Linked DNA regions of Homo sapiens. The protein of the gene in region 2 purifies or fractionates together with the protein of the main gene of each other region. This does not show direct contact. Each region holds a gene or a part of one and is shown on either strand. Other genes may lie near its edges. The genes, in order: RSAD1 and RTCA.

Evidence for each region.
Region 1: the proteins of RTCA (region 2) and RSAD1 purify together in Homo sapiens (co-immunoprecipitation; 2 studies listed by BioGRID and IntAct, with this or other methods). This does not show direct contact.

Annotation. Positions count from the first base shown.
Region 1 is NC_000017.11:50,470,812-50,485,681, reverse strand, and holds the start of RSAD1 (radical S-adenosyl methionine domain-containing protein 1, mitochondrial precursor), read right to left. Parts: upstream 6,823-14,870; 5' UTR 6,798-6,822; coding exon 6,663-6,797; intron 6,054-6,662; coding exon 5,920-6,053; intron 5,803-5,919; coding exon 5,598-5,802; intron 3,592-5,597; coding exon 3,226-3,591; intron 3,040-3,225; coding exon 2,976-3,039; intron 2,343-2,975; coding exon 2,195-2,342; intron 1,977-2,194; coding exon 1,922-1,976; intron 1,241-1,921; coding exon 1,137-1,240; exon of another isoform or gene 1,040-1,136; intron 939-1,039; coding exon 821-938; 3' UTR 1-820. Other genes in the region: ACSF2 (medium-chain acyl-CoA ligase ACSF2, mitochondrial), read right to left, coding at 11,130-11,180, 11,415-11,483, 11,678-11,788, 11,876-12,017, 13,103-13,254, 14,547-14,654.
Region 2 is NC_000001.11:100,267,152-100,284,042, forward strand, and holds part of RTCA (RNA 3'-terminal phosphate cyclase), read left to right. Parts: intron 1-348; coding exon of another isoform or gene 349-387; intron 388-1,000; coding exon 1,001-1,144; intron 1,145-3,405; coding exon 3,406-3,529; intron 3,530-6,242; coding exon 6,243-6,301; intron 6,302-7,672; coding exon 7,673-7,814; intron 7,815-8,447; coding exon 8,448-8,572; intron 8,573-10,106; coding exon 10,107-10,165; intron 10,166-14,089; exon of another isoform or gene 14,090-14,157; intron 14,158-16,891.

The DNA.
Region 1 (14,870 bases), on a different chromosome or scaffold from region 2:
GCTGTGCTGGACACATACATGGATCCACCAACATACATCAGTCCTTCTGTGTTCTCTCCTGCATGGTAGAGGCTGGAAGCCTAAGAGCTATATTCCTCAGAATTTCCTGCCAGCCAGGATTTGCTTTAAAGTCCACTAATGAGAGGCACTTCTAGAAACCATGATTCCTTCTCCAGCAGTGGCAGACAGTAGGCATGAGGTTTTGTAGCATCTTCTGAGCATTTTCCAGTACATCATCTGCTTTTGTGCTGCTGGAAGCTGAGACCATCAGCAGGAGTTTTCTGTGCCTCCTGCAAGTTGCTGATTTCTCACAGTTGCTACTGGCTTTCTCCAATGTTCACTTCTCTATCCCTTTCAGTGGTTTATAAATACTTCATTCCTATAGTAGATCCCTTCCTGCTTATATTAATAATACCTAGAGGGGACATGGTTTTCCTGATTCATCCAGCTATCTTAGGACCTTACTCCAAAATAAGGAAGGCTTCTCTTGGGGAGGTAATTGCCTGTAGAAAGATTTCCAAACACTGTTCATTATTTGATGCCAAAAAGGTAAACAGAAGCTGATGTGGGTGGTAGGCAATTCCCAGCCATGGAACACATGTTGGCCTGTGAGTCCTGAGATGCTGAATGGGATGCCAGTTCCCTGACCAGAAATGTCCTCCCATCTACCTCACTGCTGCCATTCCCCTGGGGATGCCAGGGCTGAGCAATAACCACAAGGAGCAGAGACGGCACCCGACAACGGAGAAGAGATGTCTGCAGTACCGACCCAGCTCTCAAAACCCACCTGGCATTACCCTGGAACACAGGAACATTTTTGTCATCCTCCTGGCACAGGGGAGGGGGTTCTCTGCTGCCAGGCTTCTTGGAGCTGAGGCAGGAGGGTCAGCAAGAGAGAGTCCAGCACAGCCAGACCCTCCCAGGAACACCGAAGACCCCTGGAAAACCAAGAGGCCTGAAGGTGACTACTTCATCTTACCAATTTCAAGCCCATCACCCAGCAGGGCCGAGCTCCCAGCACCCGCAGGTCCCGCCTTACCAGTCAGTCTTTCTCACTTCTCCTGGGTCTGTGGAGAGCTGTAGTCAGGGCTCCCTGGTATGCCTCAGCCCCCTCTGCCCGGCACCCCCCAACACACCTGTGATCCAGCTGCAGTAGGCCCCGCTCCAGCAGCTCCTGCACCTCCTTGTTCGCTCCAAACACATCCCACAGGGTCAGCTGGGGCTCAAACTGCTGCCAGTGCTGGGGAAGCCAGAGGGTCAGAGGTGGGGAGCTGGCCTGGCTACTCTGGGCCACATAGTTGGGGTATGGTGAGAGGTGGGGGAGGGTCCAGTTCAGCATGGAGATCTCAGCAGCTGACATGCATGAAAGCAGAACCAGGCCAATGGGCCAGCAGGGAGGAGGGCAGCTTCACTCCTATTCCACTGAGACTGGAACCCAGCTTCCAGCCAAGCCAGGCCTTCCTCTATGCCTCCTCTCTTCCCTCCCCTCTCAGCCAGCTCTAGCCAGGGCTTTATGGCTCTGCTTTATCCAGAGCAGCTCTGGATTTGCTTGATAATTATCTACTGTGCTTCCTATGAGAGGTTTCAGTGCTCCCTAAAAACAAGTGGAAACCCTTTATCTATCTATTGCTTCACAGAGCTCAGAAAATTGAGGTTAAGAGAGGTGAAAGGATTTGTGTCCAAGGTTGCAGTAAAATGAGGGCTGGAACTTGGGTCTCTGCAGCCCTGGTCTAGGGTTCTTAGCTATGCACCACTGCTCACTGCTTCTGCCCATCAGGCCTCAGCTGGACCTGGGCCCCACTTCTAGCTGCCAATCTCACAGAAATTGGAGGTATATGTGTGTGGGGGGGGTGGCAGGGAGGGGGCATTGATTCTGCAAGACTTTAGGAGGGAGTGGTGTGCAAGAATCCTAACTCCTTACCTGGTGAGTGATCCCCACATCGGTGCGTAGCCCCAGGGCCAAAACTTCCTCCAGCCTCAAAGAAAAATCACCAAGGAGTCTTAGAGAGGAGGCCTGTGCTCCTCCCATTCTCCAAATTCTACACTGGGATGCATTTAGAGGAGGCTAACAGGGACCATACAGTATGTGGCAAGGCAGGGGCCAGGACAAGACAGGAAATAAAAGATATACAAATAGACATGGTCTTGGGGTGTGGGGATCCTGGAGGAGAGCCCTGTGCCCTTGGATGCTCACAGCTCCAGCCTGCCCAGGGGGACACGCTTCCGGGTGCCATGGCCAAACAGCATCACCTCCTTCATCCAGTTGTCAGGCTCCAGTGTCTGGATCCGAGCCTCCCGGGTGTGGCCTCCAGCCCCCTGGGGCATAAATCGTCCATGGGCCCCTGACAACATCAACAACCATCCCCACATTAATGGCTGTTAATACTATGTGTTTACCAGATTTAAATCATGTGGTCCCTGGAGCAACTGCCTCTAACATACTGGAAATATAAATTATTTTTCTTTTCTTTTCTTTCTTTCTTTCTTTCTTTTTTTTTTTTTTTTTTTTGAGGTGGTGTCTCACTATACTGCCCAGGCTGGTCTTGGACGCCTGGGGTCAAACGATCTTTCCACCTCAGCTTCCCAAGTAGCTCAGATTAGAGGCACATGACACCAGGCCCTTTTTTCTTTTTCTTTTTTTTTTAATCATCTATCCCAAAATGCCAAGACATATAAATTCTTGGGCTCTCCTCTAGCCCTGTCCAATTGGGAATTCTGAGGGTGGGGCCCAGCAGCTTGGGTTTTAACAAGCCCTCCAGGAGATTCTCATACACACTAAAGGCTGAGAACCCTAGTGCAAGGTGCAACATTAAGCCCCTTATAATTCATGCTCAACAGTTCTATAGGGAGGTATTATTTTTTGCCACATTTTACATATGAGAAAATAGAGGCTTGGAGAGGTTAATGTGGCCCAAGTTCACACAGCCACGACATTCCTCTCCTGAGTCACCCTTTCTGTAGTTCACGGGACTCACCAGGCCCAACGCCAAGGTACTGACCACACTGCCAGTAAGTCCAATTGTGGGTACTGAGCGCCCCCTGCGGGGAGGGAGGAAATAGTGCAGAGTGAAGAGGGCAGGCCTCATTTTTAGACTCAGGTAAGGGGCCCCAGGTTAGAATGTCCCACCATCTCGGCCAGGATCCTTCTCTTCAGAAGGTCACAACGCCCTGGTCACACTGCAGTCTGCCCATCCTCCACCTCCAGCCATCAGCCCCAGAACTTACATTCCGGGCAAAGTTGGAGACCTCATACTGGTGGAAGCCAGCCTCCCGAAGGACAGCCCGGCCCCTCTGGTACATCTCAGCTGCGAGCTCCGGGTCAGGGGCTGGAAGGGCACCCCGCTGCACCTGGGCGAAGAGTGCGGTGCCCCGCTCCAGGGACAGCTGGTAGAGGGAGAGGTGGTCATCACAGTGGTGCAGCAGTTCCTGCAGCTGCCCAAGCCACGGCCCCACCTGCTGTGCCGGCAGCCCCAGCATCAAGTCTACAGACACGCGCCCGGGAAAGAGGCGCCGGGCCTCTGCCAGCGTCCGCAGAGCATCGCAGGCCGAGTGCGTCCGTCCCAACAGCCGGAGCTCAGTGTCATCTAGGGACTGGGAAAAGAGGGTGGGTGTAAGCATACCAGCAGCTCAGAGAGAGACAAGAACCCTCCTCCCCATTGTAGACACAGATACAGGGAGAACGCAGCACGTGGCAGGCAGCTGGAAGGCAGGAGGGGGAAGGTCAAGCTGGCACCAAGAGCTGCCATTCACAGAAGGGTCGCTATGTGCCAAGCACCTTTATGTAGTGTCTAATTTAATCTTTGTAACCCTCCAATATTAGTTCTATTTTACAGATGAGAAAACTGAGGTTCAGAGGTGTTAAGTAACTTGTCCAGGCCATACAGTTGCAAAGTTCGACCTGGAATTTAGGACTGTCTGACTCCAAAATCAAGTCTTTATTTACTTTACTTTTCAATTTTAAATAATTCTAACCTATAGAAAAGTTGAAAGAAAATCACAAAAAAAACCTTCATCTTGATTCACCATTTGTCCATATTTGTTTCTCTTTAAACATACATACCTGTTATTATGCTGAATCATTTAACAGTAAATTATAAACCAGCACTGTCCAAAAGAACTTTCTACAATGGTGGAAATGTTCATATCTGTACTGTCCAATATGATAGGTAGTAGCCACATGTGGTTATTTAAATTTAAGTGAATTAAACTTAACTTACCACATTTCAAATGCTCACTAGTCTGTGGCTAGTGGCCACTATATTGAATAGCAGTTATAGATATTATACTCCCTAACCTCTAAATACTTAGGTGTGTATTTCCTAAAGAACAAGGACATTCTCTTACATAACTGCAATCCAATTACAGAGTTCAGGAAATGCAACACTGACACAACACCATTACATAATACATTGTCATATTCAAATTTGGCTAATGGTCCCAATAACATCTACTGTAGTAATTTCCTCCTTCCTCCCCAGTCAGGGGCCACACATTGTATTCAGCTGTCTCTTCTGTCTCCTTTAGATTCTCAGCCTTTCTTTGTCTCTCATGACACTGGCATTTTTGAAGAATACAGGCCAGTTGTTTAAAATGAATAATTTAATGAATTTAAATAAATTATTATTATTTACGAATTATAATTATTTAAATGAATTATTTAAAATGAATAATTTCTACAGATTGGCTGTATAACACTGTGCTTATAGTTAACAGTGCTGTATGTACATTTAAAAACTTGTTAAGACGGTAGATCTCATGCTGTCTGTTCTTACCACAATAATTTTGTAAAAATCTCTTAATTCAGGGTTTCCTGACAATTAGATTCAAGATATGCGCTTTGGGGTAAGAATATCTTAGAAGTGATGTGTTTCTGTCAGCATATTCCATCAGAACAAAGCCCACAACCCGGAAGTCCTACGGAAATATCGGAGGTCAACCTGAGACGACTAGGTTTCTCCCTACTTAAAAACCTTCAATGGCTCCCTATCATTACTAGGACAAAACCCACACTCCTTAGTAGGCACCAAAGGTTTTGGACTCTACCTTGCAACCTTGTTTCCAGCCTCTCCAATCACAAGGAATGACTCACAACTCCCCCAAAACATGCCAGGCTCTTCCATGGCCTGTGTCGTTTCCCCCACACCCCCTCACCTGGTGAACTCTTCCTCTTCATTCAAACATCTCCTCCAGAGAAGTTTCAGTGATTTCATCAGAGTGACCTCCCTTCAGGCTGTACTCTAGAAGCCTTTTATAGAGACCCCCTTTACAGGTGACATTTACCATGCTGCAATAATCTGGCTACATGTCTGCGTCTCCCGTGTCATGTAGCAAATCTTTTTTGACCACCTACTATGTGCCAGGCACTATGGTAAGTGTTTGAAATAGAAAAGCCACACCTGATCCCTTTCTCATAAAGTCTGTGGTCTATGACAGCAGCAGACAATTAAGGAGTTATAAAAGTGTCGCACTAGGCCCTACTGTGTCCCTGGCACCCAGAAGGTGCTCAATCAATGTTTGCCCAATGAATGAATGTGACCAAAGAGGAGATGGCACTGAAGGGCGGGGTGCACTGGGATGGGGTGAGTGCCATGGGTTACCTGGAGGCCTATAGACAACCTGTTAACCCCTGCTGCCCCGAACTCTGCCAGTCTGGAGCCCGGAGCTGAAGTAGGATTAGCCTCCAATGTGACTTCCAAGTCTGCAGGCAGGTGGGCTGCCTGTGCCACAGCCTCCAGGACAGCAGCCACCGTGTGGGGACTGGCTAGACTGGGGGTCCCCCCACCAAAGAACACAGACTCCACCCTGGGGAAAGAGAATGGAGAAATGAGACCTGGGGGAGCCCTCTGGGATGCCTGCACCTATCCCCCACCACTCCTCCAAATATTTCCCAAAACGCTGCCTACAGCCCCCACTACCCACCGTTGCACCCCGCTGAGCCGCAGCAGCGTCTGAGCTTCGGTCACCAGACACTTCTGCATGGCAGCCTCCTCCAGGCGGCGAGGGATGTACTTGTTGAAGTTGCAGTAACTGCAGCGCTTCTCGCAGTAAGGCCACTGGGGGCAGTGAGTGCACGTGCGCGGTGAGAGCTGCCCTGGCCACTTCCAGGGTTCAGTCGCACACACCCCCAACCCCACCCCCACCCCTATCCCGAGGTCTTTCCACAGTAGCTAGGACATCTAAGCCACACAACTCCCCAAGGCAGGTCGCACTGGGGTTATTACATCCACTTCAATGTGAGAAAACTGAGGCTCACTCCTTTGTTACGCTGCCTCTTCCAACCAGCAGACGTCAGGAAGGAATTCAACCCAAGCTCTTTCTGGGATCATATAATTTTCATACAATTTTCCTATGAGCCATTTTCCCAGCTACCGAGTCAGAACACTGCTCTTAAGAAAATTTTGTCTTGCTAAGAGGAAAATTGTTATGAAATTTGAACCATTTGGTCAGAGTCACCGAGCCGGTGAGTAGCAGAGACTTCAGGTTTCTGGACCAAGTCATTTCCCTGCCAAAGCACAGGGTCCCATCCCAGACCTCGTACGGGGGCACGGAAACACGGCAGGCGGGTTCATAGAGTGACAAACCGCCACCTGGGTTTTGGACGGCCACGGTCACGGCCAGGGCTGCGGCCACACACCGTGGGCTCCGCCCCCGCCCCTACTCACGTGTACGTAAAGCGCCGCGCGCCGGCCCGCAGGCTCAGGACTCGGGGACCCTCCTGCGTTCTCCACGCGGCGGCGCCTCTGGGCCGCTCTGGCTGCTGCCGCCCAGCCGCGAGCCCGGGCTCCGGGGAGCGCCATGGCGCCCAGCGCAGCGCGGCGCACTGACCCGAGCAGGAGACGCGCGCAGGGATCACTGTGAGTGCGCAGCCGGCGGAAGGAAGAGGGGCTGCGTGACCGCGCGACAAGAGGGCCCGGGCCCGGGGCTGCGGCGCCACCTGCCGGGCGCCCGGGCGCTCACTGCGGCCTCCTGTCGGTTCTTTCCCCAGGCCGCGAGGCGGGCTGCTTGCCTTTTGGCACCTTGTGCCCGGGCGAGTTCCCGGACCCATCCAGGAGCTCTTAGTTTGTTCAGTCAATTCCTTGACATTTGATGTGCCTGGCTCAGAACTGGGCGCTGGGGACATCTAGGTGCATAAAGCCAGGTTGCATTCTGGCAGGAGAGAGGCAAGCCAACCGGCCAGGACAGGCAAGGCGTATTAATTCCGTGCCTGCTGGACACCAGAGCCGTCCGCCTCAGTGCTGTGAGGTCATCTGTTTTAAGAGTGTGGGAGTCAGTAGGGCAGAAGAGACACTTGGGCTGGATCTTTCTTTTAATTTCATTTACAAATATTTGGGAGAGGGGAGGTCTTGAACTCCTCGGCCTCAAGCGATCCTCCTGCCTCAGCATCTAGAGTAACTAAGGATTAAGGGCATGAGCCACCACCAGGGCTATGCACGGGATCTTGGAGGAGCAGAAAATCCCAGGGGCAATTGGCTTGGCCGGGAGAGTAGACTGTTTTGGGTCAGGCCAACCCAAGCATCTGGAGGTGTACGTGCTGGAAGGACAGTCAGATGGTGTGTGTAGGAGAGAGGGGGAAGGCGCAGGGGAAGGCCTGGGGAAGCAGGCACCTGAACAACTGTCCCACAAAGCAGAAACATCATGGGCTTCAGAGGCAGGCGGTGCAGGACAGTTCTCCCAGTGGCCTTGAACTGACCTGGTTCTCCCCTCCTTTCTTGCTTGTAGTTCTCAAGAATAACTGTAGACGCCTGTAATCCCAGCACTTTGGGAGGCCGAGGCGGGCAGATCACTTGAGATCAGAAGTTCAAGACCAGCCTAGCCAACATGCTGAAACCCCGTCTTTACCAAAAATACAAAAATTATCCAAGCGTGGTGGTGGGCACCTGTAATCCCAGCTACACGGGAGGCTGAGCAGGGAGAATCCCTCGAACCTGGGAGGCGGAGGTTGCAGTGAGCTGAGACAGTGCCACTGCACTCCAGCCTGGGTGATGGAGCAAGACTGTCTCAATAAATAAATAAATAAAACTGTAGAGTGTGCAGAGAATGCAACATCCTGAGGGAAGGAAGGACTGGCCAGCACAGCCATGCTCTGTTCCAGTCCCCCTAGAAAAAGCATGTCCTTCAACACTTCAGCCCAACATGTCACATGGCCCCAGGGTATAAAGCCCAGGGCAGAAGCCGGGCGCGGTGGCTTACTCCTGTAATCCCAGCACTTTGGGAGGCCGATGCGGGCGGATCATAAGGTCAGGAGATTGAGACCATCCTGGCTAACACGGTGAAACCCCGTTTTTACTAAAAATACAAAAAACTAGCCAGGTGTGGTGGTGCGTGCCAGTAGTCCCAGCTACCCGGGAGGCTGAGGCAGGAGAATTGCTTGAACCTGGGAGGCGGAAGTTGCAGTGAGCCCAGATGGCGACACTGCACTCCAGCCTGGGAGACAGAGTGAGACTCTGTATCAAACAAACAAACAAACAAACGAAAAACAGGGCGGGCTGGTTTCTGGGGTCCCTCAGCTTCAGTACAAGTCTGGCTGGCTGGGCGTGGTGGCCCATGCCTGTTATCACAACACTTTGGGAGGCCGAGGCGGGTGGATCACCTGAGGTCAGAAGTTCAAGACCAGCCTGGCCAACATGGCGAAACTGTTTCTACTAAAAAAAAAAAAAATAGCTGGACGTGGTAGTGCACGCCTGTAATCCCAGCTACCAGGGAGGCTGAGGCAGGAAAATTGCTTGAATCCCAGGGTTCACACCACTGCACTCCAGCCCGGGTGAAAGAGCGAGACTCCATCTCACAACAAACCAACAACAAAAAAAAAAGTCAGGCATGCACAGACAACGGTCCATCCCCCAGCTGCCTCAGCAGCTTTCCTGAGCCGTAGGGGTCCAGCTCCAAATGAATCCCAGCCTTCTGTTGTCCCTTAGTGCCTACCTATAGGTAATAAACACGTTGCATGTCACTTGTGTTTGCCTCGCTGGACTCAGCGTTATGTAACTTGTGGGTGTTTGCCTCACTGGACTCTGACAAGTTGGTAACTAGTGTGCAGTGAACCTGCCTAACAGACAGCTGGGTTCTGATCCAGCTGTGTGACCTTGAGCAAGATACGGAACCTCCCTGAGTTTCTGTTGGGTCATTGGTGAAGTGGGACCAATGGCTACTTGAAAGGATTGTTGGGAAGATTTGGAGAGAAAATAATGTGAAAGTACCTAGCACAGAGCCTGGTACTGAAAATACCTTAAACCTATGTTCATTTCTTAAAAAGTCAAGAGGAGGCTGCTGCTGCCTTGGGCAGGCACGCTGGGAGGTAAGGGGGCAGGCACGCTGCGAGGTAAGGGGGCAGGCGCGCTGCGAGGTAAGGGGGCAGGCGCGCTGGGAGGTAAGGGGGCAGGCGCGCTGCGAGGTAAGGGGGCAGGCGCGCTGGGAGGTAAGGGGGCAGGCGCGCTGCGAGGTAAGGGGGCAGGCGCGCTGCGAGGTAAGGGGGCAGGCGCGCTGGGAGGTAAGGGGGCAGGAGCGCTGCGAGGTAAGGGGGCAGGCGCGCTGCGAGGTAAGGGGGCAGGCGCGCTGGGAGGTAAGGGGGCAGGCGCGCTGGGAGGTAAGGGGGCAGGCGCGCTGGGAGGTAAGGGGGCAGGCAGGAGGCAAGTTTCCATTCCTGTGAACTGGGAATCTATGTGCCTTTTGGAACCCAGCTGTTTTTATTTCTTGGGTCAAGGTACAACCTGCTTTATCTGGCCCTGCCTACGAGGGATGCCCCAGGTTCACCAATCAAAACAAATAAAAACTAAAAATGAGGTTGGTTGGGGAGGAAGGGGGCTGGGAGATGGGAGATAATAGTTAAAGAGTATGGGGTTTCTTTCTTAGGTGATGACAATATTTAAAATTGACTGTGGTGATAGTTACACATATTTGTGAATATACTAAAGACCACTGAATTCTATACTTTAAATGGTAGATTGTCCCAGCACTTTGAGAGACTGAGGCAGGAGGATTGCTTGAGCCCATGAGTTCTAGACCAGCCTAGGCAACATAGCAAGATCCTGTGTCTATGTTTAAAAATTAGTTAAGACATGGTGGCACATTCCTACAGTCCCAGCTACTCAGGAGGCTGAGGTGGGAGGACTGCTTGAGCCCAGGAGTTCGAGGCTGCAGTGAGCTATGATCATGTCGCTACAGTGAGTCACTGCACTCCAGCACGGGTGACGGAATGAGATCCTGTCTCTAGAAAATGGGGGAGGTGGGAGTGAACTGGAGAGTATGTGAATTACATCTCAATCAAGCTGTTATACATATATAAAAAGAATACTTCTTGCTAGACTAATCTGGCAACAATGTGAAAAAGAATTAAATTAGAGTAGCTTAAAAATAAAAAATTGGGGCCAGGCGCAGTGGTTCATGCCTGTAATCCCAGCACTTTGGTAGGCTGAGGCAGGCGGATTGCTTGAGGTCAGGAGTTTGAGGACCAGCCTGGCCAACATGGTAAAACCTCGCCTCTACTAAAAATACAAAAGTTAGTTGGGTGTGGTGGTGGGTATCTGCAATCCCAGTTACTTGGGAGGGTGAGGAAGGAGAATCACTTGAATTAGGGAGGCAGAGGTTGCAGTGAGCTGAGATCGCATGACTACACTCCAGCCTGGGTGACAGGGCAAGACTCTGTCTCAAAAAACAAGAACAACAACAAAAATGGGTTGGTATCTCAAAGGGATACCAAGGGTGAGGGTTAAATTAAGTAGATAATCCACATCAAGGTGCTCTGCACTCTCAATGACAAGGAATAGGACGTCTGAAAGTGCTAGTTCCCCTCAGTGTCTTCCCTTCTCCATCCTGTAGTAGCTGCCAAGAGAGCCCACCAGCAAGAAGCCAAAGAAAACAGAAGCTCTTTATGCCAAATCACAAGGACAGACAGGGGAATGTGGGGGATGGACAGGAGGGAGGGCCTGGGCAGGCTGCCTGCCTTTTGGCACCTTGTGCCCAGGCGAGTTCCCGGACCCATCCAGGAGCTCTTAGTTCGTTCAGTCAATTCCTTGACATTTGATGTGCCTGGCTCAGAACTGGGTGCTGGGGACATCTAGGTGCATAAAGCCAGGTTGCATTCTGACAGGAGAGAGTCAAGCCAACCGGCCAGGACAGGCCTGCTGCTTTATTCACAGATTTAGATGTCGTTCCATCTGCTCTCGAAGTTTGAATTTCTGGATCTAGAGGAAAGAAAATGGAGTTAGGGTTACCAGCTGTCTTGGTTCACCCAAGAATAAGGGGTTTCTCAGGCTCTTAGTGCCAAAACAGGGAAAGTCCCCAGGCAAACCAGGATTAGGTGACCCGGTCACCCTACTGCCAGTCTCTCCACACCCATTGCTGAAGGAAACAGAGGTGGGGCCCTATGGGGCCCCAGAGCCCAGGCTGCCCTCCCCAGCCTCCTCCACCTTACACACCTTTCCTGAAATGGTGAGGGGGTAGTTTGTGACAAACACGATGTACTTCGGAATCTTGAAGTGAGAGATCTGCAGACCAGAGGGAGGGAGGTAAGGCGTGAGGCTGCGCAAGCTCACAGGGGTATGGGTAGGGGACCAGGGGCTGGCCTGGCCAGGAGTCAGCTTCGTCAAGGGCAGAGCAATCCCCACCCTGGGCTGGTTGGCAGAGGAGTGGGTGAGCAAAGAACAGAGCAGCATCAGCTAGGTTGAGCGGAGGCTCCCACCTTCCCTTTGCAGAAAGCTTTTATCTCCTCCACCGTGGTCTCCTCCCCGTCCTTCAGCCGAATGCAGGCACAAATCTCTTCCCCCATCCGATCGTCCTTCACTCCCACCACCTTCCAGGGCCAAAGAAAAATATCAGACATCACCGTGTTCATGTGTGTTTCTTGTTTCTGGGGGCTCACCTGAGCCAAGTGCCTCACCTGCACTTCCTGCACCTTCGGGTGTGTGTGAAAGAAGTCCTCGAGCTCTGCGGGGTAGATGTTCTCACCACCCCGGATGATCATATCCTTAGAGCGGCCCACGATCTTGCAGAAGCCCTGCTCATTCATTGTGGCGACATCTCTGTAAGGAAAGCCCAGGGGCAACCTGTCATCTCTGCCTTGTTCACTCACTTGCTTGCTCAGTCGTGAAACATTTATTGACCAGCTACTATGTGTCTTCCACTGCTCTAGACTCTGGGAGACATAGCAGGAACAAGACACAGTCTCTGGAATTAATAGTCCAGTAAGGGGAGGGGAGGTAGACAAAAACAAAACAATACCTATAACATATTCTGTCTCTCTCAACACATCTATACATAGCTTTTCACGACTGGCTTCTTTCCAGGTCTCAGCTCAAATGTCTCCAGACATCTTCTCTGTCCACTCAATCTAAGGGAAGCTCCCCTCCCCACCACAGCCACTTTCTCTCCTATAACCCTATTTCATTTTCTTAGTGTTTTTTGTTTGTTCATTTGCTTGTTTGTTTTTGAGATGGAGTCCTGCTCTGTCGCCCAGTCTTGAGTGCAGTGGCGCGATCTCGGTTCACTGCAACCTCCATCTCCTGGGTTACAGCGATTCTCCTGCCTCAGCCTCCGAGTAGCTGGGACTACAGGCACGTGCCGCCACCACGTCCGGCTAATTTTTGTATTTTTAGTAGAGGTGGGGTTTCACTGTGTTGGCCAGGCTGGTCTCAAACTTCTGACTTCAGGTGATCCACCCGCCTCGGCCTCCCAAACTGCTGAGATTACAGGTGTGAGTCACCGCGCCTGGCCTATTTTCTTGGTGTTATTTATCGATGTTGGGCATCATCTGTCTTCCTCCAAAAAGCAGGATCCTTCTCATCTTACTTTCCTCTGGACCTCTAGCGGCGAGAACGGTGCTAGCACATAAGGAATTCTAGTAAGAATTTGCTGAGCTAACAAATGAGTGACTGAATCTGGACTCAGATTTTGCAGCTGCTGGTGTAGGGTGATGACCCAGTTGCTTTCTTCTGTGCTATGTATGATCATCCCCACCGTATACATTTTGGAAATTAAGACTCCAGCATGTGAGGGGTCATCTTGATACCCACATCCTCACGGTGCCAGGTTAATGTTCCCGGCTCAGCCTCAAGACCTCCAGCCTCCCCTCAGCGGCCAGAGCCTCCACCCCGCCCTGCCTTCTCACCCTGTCCAATACCACTTGTCCTGATCCACTGCTTCCTCTGTCTTCTGAGGCTCACCCCAGTAGCCCAGCATGACGCAGTACCCTCGGATGCACAGCTCCCCGGGCGTGTTCAGCTTTGCCAGCGTCCCTGCCTCCATGTTCATGATCCGGGCCTGGGACAGGATGGCCTCAGGTTGGGGCTTCCTATCCTCTTGCTTCAGGATAGGTGGTCCTTGGAAATGGAGAGAGCTTTGCCTGCCCCCAACCCCCCAACCCAACTGCCTGGAATGAGGCCCCCTGGCTCTGCTTATCCCCATCCAGAGAAGGGAGACAAAGGCTAGAGTCGACCCAAAGCCAGTGAGAGACCTGAGCTGGGCATGAAAGAAGAGCTGAGTCCCAGGCTGGGAGGGCTGAGGAAACAGAGTGGGCAGGCAGCTGCTGCAAAGAAAGAGGTTTGTGGACTGCAGAGCCAGCTGAAGAATTATAAACCGTGCAGAGGAGAAGGGAGTCTCCTCTTACTTCCCATTAAGCAGCAAATAAGCCAAACAGGGTGGCATGGCAACACCATGTGAACAGGAGAGACAGAGTCTGAAAGCCTGGTAGAGAAAAGAGCCACGGCCACCGTGCCAAGGAAAGCTGAGCCTCTGTGTGCCTCAGTGTCTGTGTCCGTGAAATGGGGTGAGTGATGCCTGCCCCTGTTTCCCTTCCAGGTGGGCATCTTAGTGACAGTGGCAGTGCAGCTGTAGCACACACGGGAGGAGGCTCACATCCCTACTCAATCCCTGGGTACATGGTTGCTCTGGCGGGAGGGCAGGGCAGATTCACGCCAGGACAGCGGTCAGCCCCAGGGGAAGCAGCTGCTTGTGCACGGGGGCAGCGATCCCCCAGGGGCGGGAGCAGAAGGGTGCAGGGGAAATCAGGAGCCAGCTGGCACAGCCCCAGTGTTGGAGCAGGAAAGGAGGCATGGCTGGGCATTTGAGATTCAGGTGCACTCTGGGGCAACCTTTGAGGGGCAAAGGGACCGCCCCAAAGGGATAGGCTGCTTGGGAAATGAAGTGTTTACGCCAAGCAAGAAGAAGAACTCTGCTAAAGCGAGAGGCGAGCACCACTGGAGGAAAAGAAGCTGTGTAGGAAAACTCTCTGTGCTCTGGCTCCTCTTTGAGGCTACCCTGGCTGCCCTGAAACAGACAGTGGGCTTGGCAAAAACACACCTCAGACAGGAAGGGAGGCCGCGGAGAAGTTCAGCTGGCAGCCGCTCACAGCCACTGTTCCAGCTCTTCCCCTTTCATGCTTAGCCCACAGAGAACACTCCGGGCCAGGCCTAGCACACCCCTGCTGCTGGGGGGCTCTAGGCATCCTGAGTGAGCCATTTGACTCTCTCACTGAAAGCAACCGATGTCCCAGCTGGGTGCACCCCAGCTGGGTGACGGGAGGTGGGACTTTGGAGTCTTGGTCAGGGGCTCACCTCCGTGTGAGGCATAATTCTGCCCACGCTTTCTGCCTTCTGCTCCACAGTGTCCTCAGGGAAGTGCGCGAATGTCACGGGACTGTTCTCTGTGGTTCCATAAGCAACCTAGAGGGTCCAGAAAGGGTGTTTGAAGAGGGCTCAGCACGTGCAGAGGGATCAGGTGAGCTATCTGAGGAAATGGGAAGGAATTCATAAAAGAAAAGGGAAAGTGGAGGGCAGCCGAATGGTGGAAACAGAGACATCATTGGTAGGGGCCTGGGGTCAGGAGGCAGAGGTGCTGGGAGTGAGCAGACTAGATCTCTGCAGGGCCCCAGATCTGAA
Region 2 (16,891 bases):
TTCTGTCTGGGTAGCTGGGCATGCCACTAGTTGAGCTTCAGGTACATGCACCTGCTAGAAGAGGACCCAGGTTTGAAGCCACACTGATTGCTTTGTATGTATTCTGTATTTATTACATTTTAATAAATCAGCGGTCTCAGTCTTTTGTCTACAGTTTTGAAATTACCAAAAGGCAATTACTGATATGTTAATGTTAATTGCCTTTGTCATAGTTTGCAGCCCTCCAGTTCACCAACAGGGGAATCCAATTCATTAGGCTGTAGGTGTTGTATTAGTTTGCTAGGGCTGCCATAACAAAATGCCACACACAGAGTGGAGCTTAAACAACAGAAATTTATTTCCTCACAGTTCTGGAGGCTGGAAGTCCAAGATCAAGGTCCTGACAAGGTTGGTTTCCTCTGAGAGCCATGAGAAAAGGATCTGCTCCAGGCCTGTCTTTTTGCCTCTTCACATGGTGGTTCCTCTGTGTACCTTGCCCCTAGCGTCTCTGTATGTTCTAGTTTTTTTTTTTTTTATAAGGACACCAGTAAGATTGTATGGTGGCCTTATTTTAACTTAATTATCTCTTTAAAGGCTCTATCTCCAAATATAGTCACATTCTGAGATACGGAGGGTTACAGTCTCAGCATATTAATTTAGGGGGAACATAGTTCAGCCCATACAGGCACCATAGATTGTTCAGTCAAGTGCAAGCGAGACTGGTGGCACTGAAATAACTATTAGTTTTCTTCTTTAGCACACTTCTAATTTGCAGCAATATATCAGGGTATGTATTTATAGTCAGAAATAACTGGTCTGCAAGGAAGTGTTAAAATGATACATACTAGCAGGTAGTCTAGGTGCATAAAAACCCAAAAGGAAGCTGACACTGAAGATGTGGCACTTACTGTGGTTAGACCTTGCTGTTTTCTTGCCATTGCAGTTTTATAAATTTGTCATAAAATGTGGGGATGTAGGCAGTCTGAATGCACACGTTTTGATGCAGTATTATGACCTGAAGGCCTCAACATTTATCTGGACTGGAAATGATTCGAGATTTGTGTGATGGGCAACTGGAGGGGGCAGAAATTGGCTCAACAGAAATAACCTTTACACCAGAGAAGATCAAAGGTGGAATCCACACAGCAGATACCAAGACAGCAGGGTATGTATCACTTAACATTCCATTTAAGTAACCTGGGTTTAAGTCCAGGTTTTGCCACTTTCTGGGCAAGTTGCTTAATGTCTATGAGCTTGTTTCCCTACTTTTATGTTTTTTTTTTTTGAGACAAGGTATCCCTCTTGCCCAGGCGGGGGTGCAGTGGTGCAATCACTGCTCACTGTAAGCTGTAACTCCTGGGCCCAACAGGTCCTCCCACCTCAGCCTCCTGCGTGGCTGGGACCATAGGCACACAGCACCATGCCCCGCTAATTTTTGTATTTTTTAAAGAGACAAGGTTTCGCCATGTTTTTCAGCTGGTCTCGAATTCCTAAGCTCAAGCAATCCACCCACGTTGGCCTCCCAAAGTTTTGGGATTATAAGTGTGAGCCACCACACCTGTCCAATAAATATTCATTGAATTAATGAAATTCATTATTACTGATAGAGACTTCCCAGTTCAATACTTAAGCATCATTGTGTAAGTGAGTTAAATAAAGATCTGTCTTTTGATAGCTAAGAGGCTATGTCGAATTCCCTTTCAAACTACTTATGAATATGATTGCTTTCACTTAACTTTGGAGAAGGGAGATAATGGCTCATTTAGAAAACAACCAGGCCAGGTGCGGTGGCTCACGCCTGTAGTCCCAGCACTTTGGGAGGCCGAGGTGGGTGGATCGCTTGAGCTCACAAATTTGAGACCAGCCTGGGCAACATGGCAAAACCCCGTCATATATATATATTTATATATTTATATATATAAATAAAAATTAGCTGGGCATGGTGGTACATGCCGGTAGTCCCATCTACTTGAGAAGCTGAGGCTTGAGCCTTGGAGGTGGAAGGTGCAGTGAACTGAGATTGTGCCGCTGCACTCCAGCCTGGGTGATGGAAGGAGCCCCTGTCTCAAAAAAAGAAAAGATAATGACCAAGTGTTTCACTTTATGAAATTCATCATGTTACATAACTATTTCTTGTGATTTCTCACATTATTTGACTATAAGGACCAAACAGGCAAGTAAAGCAAGGATTACTTCACTAAAACTTCCCATGTGAAATATTTAGCTATCAGTCTTTTTTTTTTTTTTTTTTGGTCTCCCAGGCTGGAGTGCAGTGGCATGATCATGGCTCACTGTAGCCTTGACCTCTTGGGCTCAGGCGATTCTCCTAAAGTGCTGAGACTACAGGCGTGCACCACAATGCCTGGTTAATTTTTAAATTTTTTGTAAAGATGGAGTCTCACTATGTTGCCCAGATTGGTTTTGAACTCCTGGGCTCGAGTGATCATCCCACCTCTGTCTCCCAAAGTGCTGGGATACAGGCATGAGCCACCACGCCCGGCCAAGCTGTGAGTGTTTGTTATTATTAAAATTAATAATTATTAAAATATTTTATTATACTTTAAGTTCTGGATACATGTGCAGAATGTGCAGGTTTGTCACATATGTACACATGTGCCATAGTGGTTTGCTGCACCCATCAACTGGTCATCTAGGTTTTAAGCCCTGCATGCATTAGGTATTTGTCCTAGTGCTCTCCCTCCCCTTGCCACCTGCCCCCCGACAAGCCCTGGTGTGTGATGTTCCCCTCCCTGTGCCCATGTGTTCTCATTGTTCAACTGCCACTTATGAGTGAGAACATGCAGCGTTTGCTTTTCTGTTCCTATGTTAGTTTACTGAGAATGATGGTTTCCAGCTTCATCCATGTCCCTGCAAAGGACATGAACTCATTCTCTTTTATGGCTGCGTAAAATATTATTCTATCATATCATGAACTCCACAATGACAGGAACTATATCTTTATACCTGGAACAGTACCTTGTTATATAGTAACTAATCATATCCAGACCTTGTCTATTTTGAAAGCATTTTCATAAACTGCTAGTTTCAAGAATTCTTTTGTAAAACTTTTGAAGAAGGTTTTATTTTTAATTTTTTTTCTTTTTTACTTTTTTGTAATATAAAGAAAAGTATCAGAACTTAGCCAAGGTCACACAGCTAATGTGTTTAGTTGAAGATTCAGACCCAGGTTTGGTTATCATTTAAAGCTATTTTTCTATGGTGAAATACTGTTTTTCTTTAAAATTCAGGATTTTACTATTCAGACACTAAAATGTTTTTTAACTAGAAACTCAATGGCATATACCTGCCTTCACAGTTGTCTGTGCTTTAGTTGGTAGTGATGAACAAGAATATAGCTTATTTAAGAGTTTGAAAAGAAAATGCAGAAAAGAAAATGAAAATAAGCCCCTTCTGCCTTCTCCTTAGGAGTGTGTGCCTCTTGATGCAGGTCTCAATGCCGTGTGTTCTCTTTGCTGCTTCTCCATCAGAACTTCATTTGAAAGGTGGAACTAATGCTGAAATGGCACCACAGATCGATTATACAGTGATGGTAAGGGCTTTTGTTGTTGACAAACTAAGATGATCTCATACATGCTTCTGAGTCTCCATTCTCTAAATATATCCTGAGTGTTTTTTTGTGACTTTCTTGTTTATCTCTTCATGGTGTCTTTTCTTTCTTTCTTTCTTTTTTTTTTTGAGACAGTGCTGTTGCCAAGGCTGGAGTACAGTTGCATATCACAGCTCACTGCATACTCAACCTCCTGAGCTCAAGCAATCCTCCTGTCTTGGCCTCCTGAGTAGCTGGGACTACAGGCACACACCCAGCCAATTTTTTTAAATTTTTTGTAGAGTCGATGCCTCACTATGTTGCCTAGGCTGGTCTTGAACTCCTGAGCTCTAAGGATCCTCCCACCTCAGCCTCCCAAATGTGTCTATTGCAGTAGGGGGTGGGGAATTATGTTTACTTTAAGTTTGTTGTTATATCTTGGAATAGTGTTTATAGTGAATTAAAAAAAAAAACTCAAGTGTAGGGCCCGGTGTGGTGGCTCACACCTGTAATCCTAGCACTCTGGGAGGCTGAGGTAGGCAGATCACTTGAGCTTAGAAGTTCAAGACCAGCCTGGGCAACATGGTGAAATCCCATCTCTACAAAAAAATAATATAAATAAAAAACAAAAAACACTACACACAGAAAAATTAGCCAGGCATGGTGGTGCACACCTGTCCAAGCTACTCAGGAGGCTGAGGTGGGAGGATCACTTGAGCCTGGGAGGTTGAGTTTGCAGTGAGCTATGTTGGCACTCCATCCTGGGTGATAAAGCAAGATGCTGTCTTTAAAAAAACAAAAAACACCTCGAGTGTGATATAAATTATATCAGTTGTGATGTGTTATTTTATAAATACAAGGATTATGATTTGGAGGGAAACTCAAACTTTTTTTTTCTATTAAGCCCCTTCCATTCTAGGATCAAACATTTAAAAAATGATTTAAAAAATACTGGCATGCTCATATAACTAGTGGGAGAGAAAAGTGGTATAATCTTTTTTCTTCTAGATTTATTAAAGTGTAATTTTTTCAATTGAATCCACCCTTTTTAACATGCAGTTCTGTGATTTTTGACAGTGACATGATTCACAGTTATGAACCATCTACCACAATCAAGACATAGAATAGTTCCGTTACTCTAAAAAATTCCCTTATACGTTTTTGTAATCAGTCCTGAGCCTCAGCCCCTGGCAACTGCTGATCTGTTTTCTGTCATAGTTTTGCCTTTTGTTCAGAATGTCATATAAGGGATAATACTGTACGTAGGCTTTGAGTCTGGGTTTTTTGCTCTCCATAATACATTTGAGATTCATCCATGTTGCTTGTATCTGCAATGAAAACTTGAGTTGTGTTCTCGTATATGGATGTACCAGTTTGCATATCCATTCATCTATTGAAGGGCATTTGGGTGTTTCCAGATTTTGGCAATTATAAATTAAGTTACTGTTAACATTCATATACAAGTTTTTGTGTGATTGTACATTTTCATTTCTCTTGGGAAAATACTTGCTGGGTTGTTATAATAAGCAAATGTCTAACTTTATAATACATAGCCAGGTTATTTTAGCTTCCAAAGTGGCTACATTTTGCATTATTACCAGTACTATATGAGAGTTCCAGCTGAAGTGGGCACAGTGGTGTGTGCCTATAGTCCCAGCTATTTAATACTTGGTAGGGTGAGGTGGGAGGATCTCTTGAGCTTAAGCTGGAGTCTAGCCTGGGTAACATAGCGAGACCCCATCTCTAAAATAAAAATAAATATCAAATAGAGGGTTCCAGCTGTTCTGTATCCATCCTAGCACTTGATATTTTCAGGTTTTTATTTGTTAAGCTTTTTCTGCCTTTAAAAAAAAACACAAAACAAGGTTAATAACCTGTATACCTCCTGGATACATAGGAGACAACCCAGAGAAATAAGTAAATCTCTAGAGTAGATCTCAAAGAGTTGCCTTAGACATCAGGCTTAAACACCATCTTTCTCTGAAATATTGCCATTCTAATAGATGGTATAATCTTTTCAAAGTCAGTTCGATGGGATGTATAATAAAAATTAATCTCTCCTCACCTAATAATTTGACTTCAAGGAAACTCCTCTAATTCAATATTGCAAAGTTCAGCTAAAGATAAATGTTAAAGGTATTTGAACAGAGCATTATATACTGTAATTATCATTATATAAGATATATCATTATCTAATAATGAAAACTTGGAGAACCGTTAAGTCAATTAGGCTAGGATGCCATGGAGTCATTCAGATTTTGTTTAGGAATAATTTTATGATGTCAGGAAAATGCTTATGTTTATAATGTTAAAGCATTGTCTGTGGAATGAGATTTCAACTGTACAAAAAATTGAGATGACAGAATGGAATGCTCTTCACCAATACCCCCTCATTTCTTAAATGTACTATATTGAGATGCGTGAGGAAGTATTGGCCTTCGGAGTAGAATAACCACTGATATCAAATATCCTAAGTTCCAATTTTTTTCGTTAGATAGACTTGCACAGCTCTGATTAAATAAATGTCAAACTTTTAAATTTAGCTACATATCAGTTTTTTTATTTGAAAAAAATGGAACCAGCCTACATATTCTTATAACACTGTTTACCTATAGCACCCAGTTACTAGCCAGCAAAGCGCTTTTGTTTAATAAATACACTTGTTAAATTAGTGAATATTGCTGATTAACCTAATGATAAAAACTGATTTTTTCAGGTCTTCAAGCCAATTGTTGAAAAATTTGGTTTCATATTTAATTGTGACATTAAAACAAGGTAAGTTGCTTGTTTCTTAAATGTTAGGATCTATTACTTACGCTAGAAGTAGTGGAAAAGTTAGACCCTTAGAGAACTGTCTTTCTGGTACCCACTTAATACATTGCATCTCTTGTAAGAAGTAATTGTACTTTGTGGCTTAAAAATAATGAATAGCAGGAGCATGGGGACTCGAGAGCAGCTACACATCATGGTTATTTATTTCTAGGGAAAATATTTTCAAGGGAATTTTCACAGTGAGGTACCCTCATATCTAGTGATATTTCATGCCCCAGCACAGCTTAAGTGCTCACTGTGTGTAGACAACTGGACTAGACACTAAGGGGTCATAAAAGGAATTCTCTTCCACAATGTGATCAGAATTGTTTTCCTAAGAAACACATTGGGCATTCAGGTTATTTCTCTTTAAGGCTTCCCTTCTGCCACACAATCACTAGGCCATATTTCTTGGTGTGGCATTTAAGTGCTTTGAAGTCTTGCCCTAACTTTTCTAACTTCTTCGTCCCTCTCCTCCTTTCAACGTGTTATGTATTCTAACAATATGTTTGCTTGTTATTCCTTAAATATGCTTTGTGCCTTTGGACTTTTGTGTCTTTGTTCATGTTATTCTTCCCCTGCTCTCCCAAAAGTTAGAAATCCTATGTTTTTTTCAACGTGAAACTTATAATTCTTTATGAACTGTGATTGTGCCTCAATCAGAATTCATATTTGCACCTATGTTGTAGCCTTTCTTATAGCCTGACCTGTATTCTAGTAGACAGTGTGTGGAGCCATCTCCCTACCAGATGGTGAGCTCTTTGAGGGGAGGAGTACTGTCTTCTCACCGTCTGCTGTAAAATAAATGACACCAATTAATTGAATTAAAACTTTTTAAGTGTTTTGCTACTTAAATATTCATCATATATTTATTTGAGGACCTACCATGTGCCAGACATTGTTTTAGGCACAGGAAAATAGCAGGAACAATATAGGTAAGTCTAGCCCTCAAGGCGCTTATATTCTACAATAGCCCTGTCAAATAGAACTTTCTGCATTGGGGTATATGTTCCATATCTATGCTGTCCAATATGGTAGTCACTAGCCAAATGTGACTATTGAGCACTTAAAATGTGGCTAGTGCAGCTGGGGAGCTGATTTTTAAATTTTATTTAATTTTAATAGTTTCACATATCTCAAGGCTACCACATTGTATAGTACAGACAAAATTTTGTTTTTTAATGTATAAAATTTTACAAAATACAGACCTAAAATATTTAGACCTTTCCATGGATTACATGTTTGGATATCATTGACATGTCATTTTATTGTAATATAGAGCTTTGTTTTTGTCATGCAATCAGTTTATGTGGGCATTTGTTATACTTTTCATAGGGGATATTACCCAAAAGGGGGTGGTGAAGTGATTGTTCGAATGTCACCAGTTAAACAATTGAACCCTATAAATTTAACTGAGCGTGGCTGTGTGACTAAGATATATGGAAGAGCTTTCGTTGCTGGTGTTTTGCCATTTAAAGTAAGTTGTTTAGATGTTCTTAGAAATAAAATATATGTGTGTCTTGATAAATATTATGTCAACTAAATTTTGAAATTATTGAGAGAACTTAACATTTTTTTAAGGAAAGAAATAATGTCCTTTGTGGCAATATGGCTGCAGCTGGAGGCCATTATCCTAAGCAAATTAATGTGGGAACAGAAAACCAAATACCACATGTTCTCATAAGTGGAAGCTACGCATTGAATACACATGGACATAAAGATGGGAACACTGGGGACTGCTAATGGGAGGAGGGTGGAAGGGGGCTGAGGGTTGAAACACTATCAGGTACTGTGTTCACTACCTAGGTGATGGGATCATTCATATACCAGATCTCAGCGACATGTAATTTACCCATGTAACAAACCTGCACATGTACCTCCTGAACCTAAAATAAAAGATGAAATATATGTATTAATGGATACATTAATTAACAAAAATAAAATTAATTTGCATAAGCATATTTAAAAATTCAGTGCTCTCTTGAAAATCAAGTTATTAAATAATGCATGTAAAAGCTACCAATTATTTTATGTGTCTTTGAAGTCTTGAAAACAATTTTCCAAATAATCAGTAATTGTTTTATTCTATTTTTCTGTCTTGCTAAAATAGGTAGCAAAAGATATGGCAGCGGCAGCAGTTAGATGCATCAGAAAGGAGATCCGGGATTTGTATGTTAACATCCAGCCTGTTCAAGAACCTAAAGACCAAGCATTTGGCAATGGAAATGGAATAATGTGAGACAATACTTTTTCCTACACATTAGTTGAGAACCCTAAAATAGTTATCTAATTAAATTAAAGATTTTTAGGGTTTCTTGCTTAAGTTTATAGTTTTAAGAAGTATTTATTTATTTATTTATTTATTGAGGTGGAGTCTCGCTCTGTTGTCCAGGCTGGAGTGCCGTGGTGTGATCTTGGCTCACTGCAAGCTCCGCCTCCTGGGTTCATGCCATTCTTCTGCCTGAGCCTCCTGAGTAGCTGGGACTACAGGCGCCCACCACCACGCCCAGCTAATTTTTTGTATTTTTAGTAGAGACAGGGTTTCACCGTGTTAGCCAGGGTGGTCTTGATCTCCTGACCTCATGATCCACCTGCCTTGGCCTCCCAAAGTGCTGGGATTACAGGCATGAGCCACTGTGCCCAGCCTCAGTTTATATTTTTAAGGACATTCCTACCTAAAACACCAGTATGATAAATTAAGACAATTATTCTGAATTTTTTCTGAGGATGGCTTGCCTTTTGTTACCTTGTAAGATCCCTTTCCCTTATATAGTGAACTTAAACGTTTAATCAGAAGTTAGGCTTTAAAGCTAGTCCTATGAGAATATTTCCAGTTGCATAAAATACGTCAAATGTGAAATCAGTTCACAAATAAATATAGCAAAGAGCTTTTTAAAACCAGACTAGAGGCCAGGCGCGGTGGCTTACACCTGTAATCCCAGCACTTTGGGAGGCTGAGGCGGGCAGATCACAAGGTCAAGAGATCAAGATCATCCTGGCCAACATGGTGAAACCCTGTCTCTACTAAAAATACAAAAATTAGCTGGGCGTGGTGGTGCACACCTGTAGTCCCAGCTACTTGGGAGGCTGAGGCAGGAGAATCACTTGAACCTGGGAGGCGGATGTTGCAGTGAGCTGAGATCACACCACTGCACTCCAGCCTGGCGACAAAGCGAGACTCCATCTCAAAAAAAACCAGACTAGAACTATTATGTTAATTCAGTTAGGAGTTATAGATTTAAGTATTAGTACAAATTCTTTAACTGATGTTTTTGAAGTATAAAAGTACCATTTTTGGATATTTAAGTTCCAAATCCTCTCATTCAGAATTTCCATTAAAAGGTTTAAAGTAAACGCTTGCTCTACTTATGATAACACTATCTAAAAACCGTAGAACAATACCAAAGTCTCTGCATAACGACCTTTTTATTTAAGATAATTCTGAAACACTTTATAGTACTGTGTGCCTGTGAAATGGTACCACTTAGTGCTAATGACATGTTAACTTGTTGGGGGGCATGGTAGACATTTCTTAACCTGTGAATTAGAATCTGGTGTGACTTCTCCTGGTCAAGTGGTAAAGGATACTACTGGTCTGATTAAGATAGACAATGTTAATCATACCACTCTATATGAAGAATTTTTACTTTTGCAATTTGTTGCCCAGATTTAGTTCTGCCTATTTAATAGTCATTGTTCTCTTTTGTTGTATTTGCATAAATTTGGAACATTTATAGCAAAGGTAGTAATAACTTTTTTTCTTGCATAGAATTATTGCTGAGACCTCCACTGGCTGTTTGTTTGCTGGATCATCGCTTGGTAAACGAGGTAAGATAAATGAAGGGGGTCCATAGTTCCCAATGCTACTGCAGAATTCTTTAATCCATCAGGATTGGAATGTTATAGAATGATGGATGAAAGTTTAAAAGGATGTAGTTAATTGATTCTCTTTTAGAGTCAATTACACTTTCAGACTTTCAGTCTTTCTCCCACCTTTATACTTTGGAAAATTTCAAACCTATGGAAAAGTTGAATGACTAGTTCAACTAGTCATCCATACAACCTTCTCTTAGATTCACTAGTTATGAACATTTAGTTTGTTGTGTATATTTCTGAGCCATTTCAATATAAGTTGCAGGTGCCATGTCTCACCCCTGAATACTGCAGCATATATGTCCAAAGAGCAATAACTACATAATTATAATACCATTTTTACACCTGAAGAATTTGTTTTATTCTGACACACCAGATAGCTTCATACATAATGAATTGTTTCCAAAATATTATTTAGAGCGATGTGGAATTTTTTTTTTTGGGGGGGGGCACATAGCATTTGTTTCTCAAGTCTCTTTAGTCCCTCTTTTAATACACAATCCTCCCATTACCTTTTTTGTTGTTGTTCATTTCATGATACTGACATTTTTAAGAGTCCAGGCCATTTTCTCACAGAGTTTCCCACAATTTAAATTTGTCTGATTGTCTCATGATATATTCAGATTAAACATTTTTATTAAGAATACTACATAGGTGATTTTGTGTACATTCCACTGTATCACGGCAGGGGGCACATGATGTTAGTTTCTCCTTTATTGGTGAGGTTGAGTGTGATCACTTGGTTAAGGAGGTGTGTCCTGCAGATCTGTCTGCCATGAAAGTTCCTTTTACCTTTGTAATTAACTAGTGATCCAAGAAAATATTTTGAGGCCATCTGGTTATCCTGCACCCATAACAGCTTTCATCCAGTGGTTTTAACATCTATTGATGATTCTTCTCTGCATCAGTTATTACATTGGTGATTTCAGAATTTTGAATGTTTTTGTGAAAGGGAAATTTGTTTAAGGTTTGGTATATTAGAGAGAGAAGATACATACATGCATGTGTTTGTTAATATTTAAAGTTACTTTTACCAATCAGGCAACTTTTAGGTGAACTTCTAGTTGTTTGCGTGGTCATTGATTGCTTTATTCCTACTTTGTAGCATCTTTAAAAATGCTTACCAAGCTGGGCACAGTGGTACACAACTGTAATCCTAGCACTTTGGGAGGCTGAGGTGGGAGGATTACTGAGACCAGAAGTTCAAGACTATCCTGGGCAATGTAGTGAGACTTTGTCTTTGCAAAATAAATAAACAAATAAAAATGTTTACCCTAGCTATGCTGTTAAGCCACACTATTACTACTGAATACAAAAAAAATTAGGAATTCTTCAGTTTGCTCAGTTGGTAAATCTAGAACTAGTTGGGCATCAAATCTGATCAAGAGAATAAATAAAATCACCATTTCCAGTTGAACTCACATAAATGAATTCTGTCTAAAACTGTGCTATTCAAAATGTGGTTGGCAGACAGGCAAACTTGTCAGCATCAACTGGGAGTTCGTTAGAAATACAGATTTTGGGACCTACCTCAGACGTATTGAATTAGAATCTGTGGGAGTGGGGCCCAGGAATCCATTTTAACAAACTTTCCAGGTACTTTTAATGTATACTGAAGTTTGAGAAATAGTGATCTAAAATATGTATTTGGCATATACTAATTACATATTAGGTGCAGTGAGGAATCAGTGTGGATATTGAGCCACTGCATGCACTATCTACAACAGTCTTTAGAAGCAAAGAGAATACAAATATAAAACGGAGACTAGGAGCAGACATATTACAAGTAATAAGTACTTAGCAGGCATTGGGAGAAGTGTGAGTTTGTTTGTATTACTGGTTACCAAATGTGCCAGGTACTGTGTACTAGGGATTCAAAAGTGACAGCTATGATTCCTGCCTCCTGGGTTATTCTGGCAGAGGAAACAGACCAGTTCTATGATAGTGGTATCCCCAGGGTACCATAGGAATACAGGGGAAGCAAAGGGAATCCTTCTGGGGACTGATTGACACCAAATCTGCCTTCTGCCATTTAATGGTCCTCCAGTGGGTTCTGTGGGTAAATAGAAGTTAGCTGGATAGAAAAGTGAGAGCTAAGGAGGAAGGACAAAGAAATTTGACATACAAAAGTATTCTGGGTGAGGTGGCATGCAGCTTTAGTCCAAGCTACTCGGGAGGCTGAAGCAGGATGATTGCTTGAGCCAGGAGTTTGACAACAGCCTGGCCAACATGGCAAGATTCCATCTCTTAAAATTTTTTTTTTTTTAAGTAGCCCCATATGGTGGCTCACACCTATAGTCCCAGCTGCTCAGGAGGCTGAAGCGGGAGGATTGCTTGATCCTAAGATGTTCAAGGCTGCAATGAGCTATGATTGCACCACTGCATTCCAGTCTGGGTGACACAGTGAGACCCTGTCACCAAAAAAATAGTGTTCTGTGTTTGAGCAAGCAACTGCAAGTGGATAATAGATCTGGGTAAGGGAATGGAGAGAGATGACAACAGAAATATCGACAGGCCAGATTCTGAAAGGCTATAGGTTATATCTAGGAATTTACATTTCATCCTGAAATATAGAGCATTTAATGAGGGATGTGATATGAGAGTTTTTGAAAGATAATTCAGAGAAGTAGAAGAAAGCCATATTAGAGGCAGGAAGATAAGAGTTCATTACAATTCAGGTCAGAATGGTAAGGGCCTGTGCCAAGGAATGCTGGGCTAGAGAGGTGAATACTGATAAAAGGGTATTTGCAAAGGTGAATGGACAATATTTGCTGGCCAGTTGGGTATGGGAAGTGAGGAAGGCAGTGTAAAGTATGACCTTCTAGATGTCTGGCTTAGGTAACTGGATATATTTACCTCTTGTGAATATACGGGGTAGAGTTAGTTTGCCAGGGTAGATGATAATTTTAGATATGCTGCGTTGAGATTGATTGTAAAGGGATCATTACTTTATCAGTAATACATGGAATTTTTTTACCAGGCCTGAAAAAAATTTTCTAATGTTCTGTCAGCATTTTTTTCTCACTTTGTCACATGAAGCAACTTGTACTTTAAAGTAGTTTTTGGATAAAACACTTGTAGAGTACACAGTACTTATTTTTAGACTTAGGGTGTTAGGAGAGAATAGAGGAGAGAGCAACATGCCTGCTGAGATTGACTGACTCCTCCTGGTATCCTTCCTTGGTTCCTATCATGCACATCAGTCAAATGAGATGTTAGCAAATGCAAAAGTAACTTGTGGTCTTCTCAATCCAGCTTGTCTATATATTAAGGATCTCAGAGAGAATGTCATGACCTCTATTATCCAGATCCCCTTTCATTTCTGATTTAAATTAACTAGAAAATTACTGGATTTAGGGGCTGGGTGTGGTGGCGTATGCCTGTAATCCCAGCACTTTGGGAGGCCAAGGTGAGCAGATCACTTGAACCCAAGTGTTCAAGACCAATCTGGGCAACATGGCGAAACCCTGTCTCTACAAAAAATACAAAAATTACTTGAGCATGGTGGCATGTGCTTGTAGTCCCAGCTACTCTAAATGCTGAGGCAGGAGGCGGGAGGATCACTTGAGCCCAGGAGGTGTAGGTTGCAGTGAGCTGAGATCACACCACTGCACTCCAGCCTAGGTGATAGAGCAAGACCCTGTCTCAAAAAAATAAAACAAAACTACCAGACCTTGAATCCTAATTTCTTAGGGTTATCACCAGAAGGAACATTGGCTGCTTGTCAATACCACCATAGGTGGTAGAGGCAGGAAGTTGTAACTAGAGATGTCTTTATCATTGTCTCAGTTACTATAACCATTTTGATCTTAGTTTCCTTATATGTTGAGCAAGAAGATTAGCCTGGAGAATCTCCAAAATCCTTCTAACTATAACATTCTTCAATTTTATTTTAAAACGGTGAGATTTTGTTTTGTCTGAGAAAATCTCGCTGTTTTAGACTGAGGCAGTGTGTTATGATAGAGAGCACTAAACAGAGAGTGAGAAGACCTAAATTTTAGTCCCATGTCCTGTCATTATCATGCATAGTGACTCTGGGCTTTCCTTATCTGAAAAATGATATTGGACCGTGATTGTGATCTATGTTTAAGGATCCCTTCCAACTTTAAGTGATTGCATTATAGACAGAATGTGTTTTGTCTTTCCATTGTTGCGTATCTGTGTGATCTTTCATTACTCTTATCTTACAGTTAGTTATATTCTTTACTATGGGAGCAAAATAATCTGCTGAAATGAATTGTGCCTCTGGTTAATCAATCTTTATTTCCTTTGTATAGTAATTGCCTCACTTATAGCAAGCACCTTCCTTCCCTCCCTCAGTGTATGTGGTAATTCAGGGCATCTCTCTGTTTTTGTTTTTGTTTTTTTTTTTCGAGACGGAATCTTGCTTTGTCGCCCAGGCTAGAGTGCAATGGAGCAATCTCGGCTCACTGCAACCTCCGCCTCCTGTGTTCAAGCAATCCTCCCACCGCAGCCTCCCAAGTAGCTGGGATTACAAGTGTGTGCCACCATGCCGGCTAATTTTTGTATTTTTGGTAGAGACGGGGTTTCACAGTGTTGGCCAGGCTGGTTTCGAACTCCTGACCTCAAGTAATCTGCCTCCCAAAGTGCTGGGATTACAGGCGTGAGCCACCGTGCCGGCCTCATGGCATCTCTCTGATGTCCTAAAACAAGTCCTTGAGACCTTTGTTTAAAAACATCCAAAATGTGAGAAGATTGGCAATTAGTTAGAAAAGCATTAAGATTTCAGAAGAAATTGAGATTTTGCTTTTGGTGTGTATAATACTAATAAGCAAGATTCTCATATTTTGCTTATTATGTTCAGTTGCTACAGACTGCTAGTAATGGCAGTTAGTAATGTAGAACCATTCATGCCATTACTATCAAGGTGGCTGGGTGGAAAGGAATGTGAATGGCTCTGAGGAATTCTTTGCTACATGGCAGAAAACTTTAGTGTACCTGCTGTTTTCTAGTACTACAAAGCCGGAAGTTCTTTCCTTTTCCTTTACATCCTCCATCCCTATTTTAGCTGTTTTTCAAGGACTCACTTAAGTCCTTCATGCTTTATGAAACCTCAAATTATTCTAGAACCTATATAATCTCTTACTTTTCTGAACTCCTGTCGGGTATATAGTTTATATCACAGAGTTAGCACTTAATTATCCTCTAATTTTCTAATATATGTGTATTTTAAATGCCTCCTTAGCAAAGGATCTGGTTTCTATTACTTAGCATGGTAGATAAATAGTGGGTATGCAATACTCCTACAGGTTGAGCATTCCTAATCCAAAAATCTAAAATCTGAAATATTCCAAAATCAGAAGCTTTTCAAGTGGCAGTATGCCACAAAACTTTGTTTTATGCACAAAATCATTTAAAACATTGTATAAGGTTGCCTTCAAGCTATGTGTGTAAGGTATGTATGAACATTAATGAATTTCAGGTTTGTTTATTTATTTATTGAGATGGGAGTCTTACTCTCTTGCCCAGTCTAGAGTGGAGTGGTGCAATCTTGGCTTACTGCAACCTCTGCCTCCTGAGCTCTAGAGAGCTTCCCACCACAGACTCCCGAGTAGCTGGAATTATTAGTGTGCGCCACCATGCCTGGCTATTTTAGTAGAGACAGAGTTTCACCATGTTGGCCAGGCTAGTCTTGAACTCCTGTACTCAAGCTATCTGCCTGCCTCCACCTCCCAAAATGCTGGGATTACAGGCGTGAGCCACTGTGCTTAGCTGAATTTCATGTGTAGACTTGGGTCGCATCCCCAAGCTATCTCATTATGTATATCCAAATATTCCTTTTTTTTTTTTTTTTTTTTTTTAATTTTGAGACAGAATCTCATGTGTCACCCAGGCTGGAGTGCAGTGGCACGATCTCAGCTCACCATAACCTCCGCCTCCCGAGTTCAAGAGATTGTTGTCCCTCAGCCTCCTGAGTAGCTAAAACTACAATCGCACACAACCATGCCTGGCTAATTTTTGTATTTTTAGTATTTCACCATGTTGGCCAGTCTGGTCTCGAATTCCTCATCTCAAGTGATCTGCCCGCCTTGGCCTCCCAAAGTGCTGGGATTATAGGCATGAGCCACCATGCCTGGCTCAAATATTCCAAAATTTTTTAAAAATCCAAAATCTGAAACCTTCTAGTCCCAAGCATTTCAGATAAGGGTTACTCAACCTGTGTTATTATTAATAGCTTTTTATGTACTAGTCTGGGTAATAGATGCTTTATAAATATTATCTCTAATTTCTATAACAACTTTGCAGCATAATTATTATCATCTCCATCTTCTAGAAGAGGAAATGGCAGTGGCTAACAAGAAGTCAAGATTCACAAAACATGTTTCAAACCATTTCATTCAGTCACGTAAATACTTGGCCAATTGATAATATAAAGAGGGTAATTTATTATATTATTATGACTACTATAAAGAAAAATAGAGTTTCTGGGCATGATGGCTCATGCCTGGAATTCTAACACTTTGGGAGGCTGAAGCGGGAGGATCACTTGAGTTCAGGAGTTTGAGACCAGTCCAGGCAACGTAGTGAGACCTAGTCGCTAAAAAAAAAAAAGAAAAAAAAAAAAAAGAAAAAACAAGAAAAAACAAGAAAAACAAAGAAAAATAGAGTTAAAATTCTACAATTTCCACTTTGGGGAAAATTTTATCATATATAATCAAG